2 separate regions of the Homo sapiens genome follow, and region 1 is linked to region 2. The links come from fine-mapping of genetic effects on gene expression. A gene starts in region 2. The other region holds a variant in brackets. All regions are shown on one strand. Distances are from middle to middle.

The links. PIP is the estimated chance that this variant, and not a neighbour inherited with it, causes the effect. A credible set is the group of variants that fine-mapping cannot tell apart.
Region 1: its variant is the best candidate, but not a certain one, in a credible set for the expression of FBXO32 in tibial artery (GTEx, PIP 0.53).

Annotation. Positions count from the first base shown.
Region 1 is chr8:123,598,435-123,602,831 of GRCh38, reverse strand. No RefSeq gene overlaps it. Among named protein-coding and RNA genes, the nearest start is that of KLHL38, 53 kb to the left of the region's middle. The variant G/A (reference allele first, on the strand shown) is at 2,248.
Region 2 is chr8:123,539,285-123,543,666 of GRCh38, reverse strand. FBXO32 (F-box protein 32) reads left to right here and starts at 2,461. Exons shown (of 9, transcript NM_058229.4): 1 at 2,461-2,768. The coding sequence starts at 2,653. RefSeq lists silencers at 1,935-2,224, 2,315-2,424, 2,475-2,564.

The sequences.
Region 1 (4,397 bases), 59 kb before region 2:
CTCTTTCAACTTCAGTCTTTTCATCCACACAGTAGGGATAACAATAATATCTTCCTCCTAAAATTGTCATAAGGATTAAATGAGAAAATTCACATAAAGTGCTTAGCAAGGTGCCAAGCACATCATAAATATTCAATAAAAAATAATCATAGTGAGTTAGAGTAAGTACTCAAAAAACGTTAGCTGGTTTTGTTTGTTGGTGGTGGTTCTGTTGCTTTTGAGTGATTTAACCCCTAATAAGGAGTTAAATGTTTGAATACCTCCAGGATAAGGAAGTTTCAATCTTACTGATATTCTATTCTATAGTTGGCCAACCTTAATTTGATTTGAGACATCCTGGAAGCACTTAGGTTCTTAGCACTGTTTTAAGCACCTTATATGTATATTTCACTTAATTTGCACAACAGGATTCAAAACCAGATCTTTCTGCTGCTAGAATCTATACTTTTTCCCCAGTGAGACACTCTTCTTCCTGACAAATTCAATCATTTTTTCTAGTTCTGCTCTCAGGAAGGACTTAGAGGAAGTCAGCTCCTCTCCTACATGGTGGTTTCCTCCAAATTGAATGGCAAACTCTCCAGAGGTGCTGATCACACTGGGAGTTTGTCTCCTCACCTGGTTGGGGCTATTGGGAAAGTCAGGGGCTGGCAGTGTCAGAATGGCCTCAGGGTTCACTGGCTCCACTACTTACAGCCAGAAACCTCCTCCCAGAGAGATCTTTAATCTAAAGTTATTTCCATAATGTCCAGGGAAGCAACTTTTCTGCCAGTAAAACAAGGATCTGTTGATCCCATAGTCCCAGGATAGAATCCTAATACATGACTTTCTGCCTCAAATGGATGTGCTGTCCTTTCTTCATTCAACCAGAAAGCTGTTAGTATTTGCCAAGTACACAGGCACCCAGGGGAGTGTCAAGGAAATAGAAGGTCTGGTGCCTAAGAACATAAGGACACCTTATAAGGACACTCTAAGAGCCTATGTGGCCTCAGATAAATCACTTCACCATCCTAACCCTCAGCTTTCTCTATGTGAAATGGGGATAGGAATAATTCCCAATGCAAGGATTGAATGAGATGATGCTAGTGATTATTATGGAAGGTATTCACATAGATTCCCTTCTTCCTTGTCATCAGAACCCCAGTTTTGTTCAGGAAAGTACCTGCTCCAAGACTATGAATTAAAATATATCTGATATGGTTAAGACCATCATCTTCCTCTCCACCAAGATGCTCACTTTCCCAGCCTCCCTTATGCCTAGGGATCCCCATTTGATCTTGTTCTGACTAATGAGAGGTAAAGAGAAGTCATCTGGAAGTCTTCTGGGAAACTTTTTGGTTTCCTGTAAAAGGAACAGGCATGAAGTCATACATAGAAGCGCTTTCACCTCATCCCACCCCACCTACAAATACATACACTGTATCTTCTTTGAATTCAGATGCAATGCCTGGAGCTGGGGTAGCCACCTTGTGACCAAGAAGCAGTAAGTTTGAAGGCAACAGTCAAAAGCTAAGTAGAGAGAGGCAGAAATGAAGAATGACCCTGGATACTTGACGAGACATTAGAGCTGATAAATCAACCTCAAAATACCTACCTCATAGTTCTCAAGTGAGATTATAAATGCTTGAGTACTTAAGCCACTAGTGTCAGTTTTTCTGAATAATTGACTTGATGCTATCATCTATTGTTACCATTCACTCCAAGCTCCCATCACTGATCCTTCTATGACTTTGAGGGGTGAACCATGTCTCTGAGTACCAAAGGGGCTTTTGAGGGACATTACTTTAACCAAGGCATACACAGTAAAGTCAAGCCCCTCTATTATTTTCCATAAAGTCCTCCTATACAAAGAACCCCAGCAGAGTCTGCAAATGAGGGGCCTTTAGTCCTATGTGGTTTACACAACGCTTCTCAGGGAGTATTCCAGTATGACACCATATATGCAGGCTCATGGGTCAACTGCATTCTCCATATGTCTCATATGTTGTGCTGACACCATTCTAGGTGTATCCTGGGCATTCTGCTCTGTTTCAATGGGAAAACTTCTCCTGACTCTGAGAATCAGGTTTCACAATTACCCATTGTATTAGTCCATTTTCACACTGCTGATAAAGACATATCCAAAACTGGGTAATTTATAAAGAAAAAGAAGTTTAATGGACTCAGAGTTCCATGTGGTTAGGGATGCCTCACAATCATGGCAGAAGGCAAAAGGCACATCTTATATGACAGCAGGCAAGACAGAATGAC[G/A]ACCAAGTGAAAAGGGTTTCTCCTCATAAAACCATCAGATCTTGTGAGATTTATTCACTATCATGAGAACAGTGGGAGGGAAACTGCTCCCATGATTCAATTATCTTCCACTGTGTCCCTCCCACAACACGTGTGAATTATGGGAGCTACAATTCAAGATGAGATTTGGGTGGGGACACAGCCAAACCATATCACACACGAAGACAGAGGAGGGATCTGAACATGGGAGCAAATGCATAGAAAATGCTCAGCACAGTAGCTGGTACCTGACAGTTTCTCAATAAAAGGCAGCTATTATTCTCATGATGATCAGGACCATTCTCATTATAGAACACAATTGCTGTCACTTCTAAATTCAGCTACTCCACAAAGGGATCACAGGCCCTGCACTTCCAAGCCCACCCACTGTCTGTGACTTGGATATTAGGATTATTTCTCACATAGCATGCTTCCAGAGCAGGAGGGGCCTGGCAGGTTGTGGTAGGTGAGCAGGTGCCTGAATAGGCTACACAGAGAAGGAGGCAGCACTTAGCCTGACCATTCAGAAGATGAGTCAAGGCCATGGTAAAGAAATCATACACTGTCTTCCAAACCTAAGCTGAATGTCAAGATGAATTTTATATCATTCATCACCCAACAAGTATTCATTGAGGCACAAGGCAGGTGCTCAAAACTGTACTGAAAAGAAAAACCCTAAAAAACAAGACAGAGAGTGGGATGTATACTGCAGAGAGTATTTGTGGCTTGACTGAAAGAATTATGCCAGGAAAACATCCTCAGGTTTTAGCTGCTCACTTTCCTGGAATTCTAACTGAGTTACCAAGCTAGAAGATCCTGGAAGACACACACCAAGCTTGCCAACAGAGTGCTCCTCTAAAATACACCCTGCAGCTCTGTAAACAAGCCAACCCCATACATCCAAATGACCATGTGCTGAGACCATGTCTACGTGGTGCTTTCTGCCCACGGGGAGCCACCCTCGTGAGTGGTAGAGTGGGTGCACAGAGCGAAGGATGGAAACCAGGAGACATTTTCTCCACCAGCCCCCACCCCCCACTGAATTGCTGCCTGTCTCCCTGTGGATCACTGAGCCCCCCAGACCCCCATTTCCCCACCTATCAAGTGAAGGGGCTGGATTCCATGGCCCCTGTGATGATTAACTTTATGTATCCACTTGGCTGGGACGCAATGCCAGAAAAGTGGTCAAACAGTATGCTGTATGTTTCTGTGAAGGTGTTTTGTGGATGAGATTTACATTAAAATCTGTGGGCTTTGAGGAAAGCAGATGACCCTCCATCATGCAGGCAGGCCTCACCCAATCAGTGGAAGGCCTGAATAGAACAGACTGGCCTCCCCACACAAGAAGGCATCCTGCCAGCCGACAGCCTTTGGTTGGACTCAGACTGCAATTCTTCCCTGAGCCTCCATCCTGCCGGCCCACTCCAGATTTTAGACTCCCCAAGCCGCTACAATCATGTGAGCCAATTTCTTTTATATATATATATATATAATATATAATATATTATATATATAATATATATAATATATAATATATATAATATATATAATATATTATATATATTATATATAATATATAATATATATATATTATATATATATAAAATACTTTTTTCTTTTATATATATTTATATATATATATTATACTTTAAGTTCTAGGGTACATGTGCACAACGTGCAGATTTGTTACATATGTATACATGTGCCATGTTGGTGTGCTGCACCCATTAACTCGTCATATAACATTAGGTATATCTCCTAATGCTATCCCTCCCCACTCCCCGTACCCTACAACAGGCCCCGGTGTGTGATGTTCCCCTTCCTGTGTCCAAGTGTTCTCATTGTTCAGTTCCCACCTATGAGTGAGAATATGCAGTGTTTGGTTTTTTGTCCTTGCGATAGTTTGCTGAGAATGATGGTTTCCAGCTTCATCCATGTCCCTACAAAGGACATGAACTCATCCTTTTTTATGGCTGCATAGTATTCCATGGTGTATATGTGCCACATTTTCTTAATCCAGTCTATCATTGTTGGACATTTGGGTTGGTTCCAAGTCTTTGCTATTGTGAATAGTGCCACAATAAACATACGTGTGCATGTGTCTTTATAGCAGCATGACTTATAATTCTTTG
Region 2 (4,382 bases):
AGAAGTTAAAGAAACTTTCACCAACTTTGAGCCACTCAACCCTTTATAGTAGTCAGCTATCGACACAATAATGCTGTGTAACAGTAAATCACAAAAATCTCAGTGGCATCAACAAGACACATTTATTTCTTGCTAACACATCTGTGAGGTCAACGGGAGTGTCTGCTCCATGTGTCACATCCTGGGACACACGGATGTCACTCAAACCACTCCAGGAGCAGTGGCTACACAGGGTATGCTCTTTTCATGGAGCAGGTGAACACACAAAACATCAAGACCAACCAGGCAAGTACATACATCAGATCCTCTGCTCACATCACATCCATCAGCATCCCCTTGGCTAAAGCCAGTCATATGGCCAAGCCCATTGTCAAGAATTAGAAAAATACACATCACCAAAAAGTGTGGGCACATGACGCTACTGGAAAGGAGGGAAGAATGGGTACTAATAATTCAATCTACCACAGCTTTTAAACCATCCTGAAAGGTAGGCATTATTGGCTCCATTTTTTCTTGACAGTTAAGTAAATGGGGCCCTAAGAGTTTAAGTCATTCATCCAAGGGAGGACAGGTAGTATGCTGCTCCAGCAGAATTAGAATTCAAAACTTCTACCTTCTGGCCCTCTGTGGTCTCTACAGGTATGTAGCCAGCTTACTAATACATAACTAACCCACATTGTTCATAATCACATCCCAGGCGGGCATGGTGGCTCACGCCTGTAATCCCAACACTTTGGGAGGCCAAGGAAGGAGGATCACTTGAGCCCAGGAGTTTAAGACTAGCCTGGGCAAGATAGCAAAACCCTATCTCTACAAAAAATATAAAAAATTAGCCTGGTGCAGTGGTGAGTGCCTGTAGTCTCAGCTACTGGAGACTGGGGCCGAGGTGGGAGGATGGCTTGAGCTGGGGAGGCTGAGGCTACAGTGAGCCATGATCACTCACTCTAGCCTGAGTGACACAATGAGACCCTGTCTCAAAAATAATAATAATAATAATCACATCCCTTAATTATGCAGATACCAATTCCCTCCAACAGAGACCAGACCCAACACTGCCTCATTTGTTAGCACCATCACAGTGTTTAACATTTGTTTGGGACTTCTTCAATGTTTTTACAAGCTTTTTTTTTACTATTACTACACTAATAAATTATTTACGGTGGGAAATCTAAATCAGAAAGCTCTGGCTTCTTGAAAACAAACTTTATTAAAAACGTCTTCCCAGTCCAACATGTAGCCTCATAGGGCACACACAATTTCTTTGCCTGAGCCTTAAAGATTACACCGAGTCAGTGGACTAGATGATATTGATGGCTGCAGAGAAAGAAGAATGGAAGAATGAAGTTTGAAGCTAATGCTTGAGTATGGGATTTTTACTCTGCTGCTGCTGTCCTGTGCAAACTAATTGCCAAATAGACCAGGCTGTAAAGCATCATAACTAGAGGTGATGAAGGGCAAGAAGCCACCCTCATGCCAGCAGCCTCCCGTATCCATTCACTTATTCACACAAATAGTTGTTGAAGGCCTGCACTGGGCCTGGCAGGGTGCAGGGGCTGAAATGCCTCCGGAACAAGACAGACCAGCTCTCATGGAGTTCCCACTGCAGACAGGGGTAGATTGTTGTAACAACAGCAAAAAGTAAAAGCAAACAGGGTAGTTTCAGATTGTACTGTAGCATTGGCCCTGGGTACATCATTTAACCCGTCTCTTAGAGGGTTCGGGTAGGATAGGGGCGCTGTTCTTTTTCTCCACTCCCAACCTGCGGGAGCCAGATACCTCCCAGGGCTTCCTCTCCTTCCCCTCCTTTGCTGCCCCAGGGGCAGGTCTGAAGGAGGACTGGTTAGTGACAGCTAAGGGGCCCGGAGGGCTGGGAGGCTGTCCCTCCTCCCCGCTCCAACCCCCGCGCGCTAGGGCGGGGTTGGGGCAGTGAGCGAGGTCAGGAGGCTGCGCCCCCTACTCCCCGCCCGGCGGGCGCGGTGCCGGCCCCAGCTCTGCGGACGGCCCGGGAGGCTGATCTGGCTGCGGAGGTCGATCCTGATAGCTCGGGGGCAGGAGGGGGGCTGGCCCTGCTCCTCACGCCCACCCCGCAGGGACCCAGACGCCCCTCCGGCCCCCTCCCTGCACCCCGTCAGCCCGGGAGCTGCAGGAGACCGGGGCGCATCTTTCCAAGCGCCGGGCCTCGCTCTGGGACAACGGTGTCCTGGGGGCGGGGAGGGCGCGCGGAGGTGCCAGGGGCGGCGGGGTACCCGGCCCGGCAGCACCGCTTCAAGTTTCCACCGGCGCGGTTGTGCAACCGGGAGGGGAGCGTGAGCCGCAGGCGCCTCGGAAAACAAGCCGAGCCCATAAACAAAGCCACGTGGCCTCCGGGCCGGGGGGCCGGGCTAAGAGCGGGCGGCTCTTCCGGCAACAAAGAGCTGCGGCCGGCTGCGGGGATAAATACTGCGGCAGCTACTGCCGCGCAGCACTCCCGGAGCCTGCAACGCTTGAGATCCTCTCCGCGCCCGCCACCCCGCAGGGTGCCCCGCGCCGTTCCCGCCGCCCCGCCGCCCCCGTCGCGGGCCCCTGCACCCCGAGCATCCGCCCCGGGTGGCACGTCCCCGAGCCCACCAGGCCGGCCCCGTCTCCCCATCCGTCTAGTCCGCTCGCGGTGCCATGCCATTCCTCGGGCAGGACTGGCGGTCCCCCGGGCAGAACTGGGTGAAGACGGCCGACGGCTGGAAGCGCTTCCTGGATGAGAAGAGCGGCAGTTTCGTGAGCGACCTCAGCAGGTGAGGGGACCCGCTACCAACTTCCAGCCCCCGCGAAACTGACCCGGGCTGGTCTGGGGGGCGCAGGGACGGCGAATGAGGGGCAGGCAGGGCTGGAGCGGGCTGAGGAGGGAGACCCTGACCCGGAGGGTGGGACTACGGGGCCCGATTTCTGCAGAGGTCTTCGGACCACCGGAGACAGGGAATTCGGTTTCTCTTATTGTTCAAGGTCAGTGTCTCCAAGTGGACACGACTCCTTACAGAACACCTGGTCCCTCTGAGAGTCTGATGACATTCGCGGATCGTGTCCCCAAACGTTCGCTCAAACTTAATCACACAGCTTTAGTGGTCCCTGCTTTAAGGACACCGGAGTCGCGCACTTTGCCCATGTGGGGGCGCGGGCGGGTGGGCTGAGCCCCTTCACCGCGGGGTGGCCCGGCTCCCAGCGCCCAAGCGCTGTGGACGCGACAGGTGACGGGATCCGACGAAGGTCCCGCCTGGAGCGCTTCCAGGCCCTGCCCAGGCACGGGCAACCACGAAGTGGCCGGGAGGATGAGTAACCAGGAAGGGACGGCCAGATGGTCCCTGGGGCAGCCGCTTACTGGGCGGACTTGCGAGCGGTGGAGGCTTGGGGCTGCAGAGGTGCAAAGGAGGGAAGGGGGCAGGGGATGAATCCCACAAGAGCTCTGCTTCTGGGAGGACAGGGCTCTTGCACCTGTTTCCTCGGTGGCCCTCTCGGTCGGTCTGCTTTGTATAGAGTGCACTCCGTTTCCAGGGGTGCCTGTCAGCTGCGAAAAGCCTGCCTGGCCCCGGTGAGCCTCTGGATTCGAGGCCTCACCTGAGCTCTGTGGTCTGGCGGGAAACCTGAGGTCCGCTGCGCTCCCTGCTCAGCTTGGCTAACGATGCCAGCGCCGGCTAGTACGCAAGGTAGCCTGGAATTTCTCAGCCCCTGACCTCGACAGTTGACTTTCAGAGACTCTCAGCATTTAGCCCGGTGAGCGGGGGCGATGAAAGTGATTCCAGAATGGACTGGTGCAGCCAGAGTCACCCTTGGGAGCCTTTTCCTGCCACCTTTGGTTAAAACCATGGGCCCCTGCACCCTTAAATTGACTTCAATGGAGAATTCTGTTTCTGGGCCAGGTTCCCGCTTACTGAGATTTACCAGTCGTTGCTTGGATGAAGCATTGGCAATAAATTTTGAGAAAACTATCAAGAAAATGTGGTTATTTTGGCAACTTGAACTCCCGTGCCTCCCATTTGTTTGTGATTTGTAATGCATCAAATTCCCATTGTCTCACAATGTAAAGAAAGACATTATTTAATTCTGGGGGTCTGTCCGGAGAGACTTGAGCGTATTAACCACCAGCATATAACCATTTACGTTGGAGTTACTTGGAGGCTGTCCCAGGGGAGTTTAGGGACCACCATAAGGAAATCTTATTTACGTAAAATCAAGTAATTTATTTACGGGAAAGTAAGACCAACTGCTATTGACAGACTATGTCTTTTATCGACTGGAGTTACCAATTATGCCTAAATTATTCTCCCTCAACAAAATGGGAACCTTCCTTCCTTCCTCCTTGTTCCTAAGGACAATGATCTAATATGTTGGTACTTTATTTCTGTATACAAGTT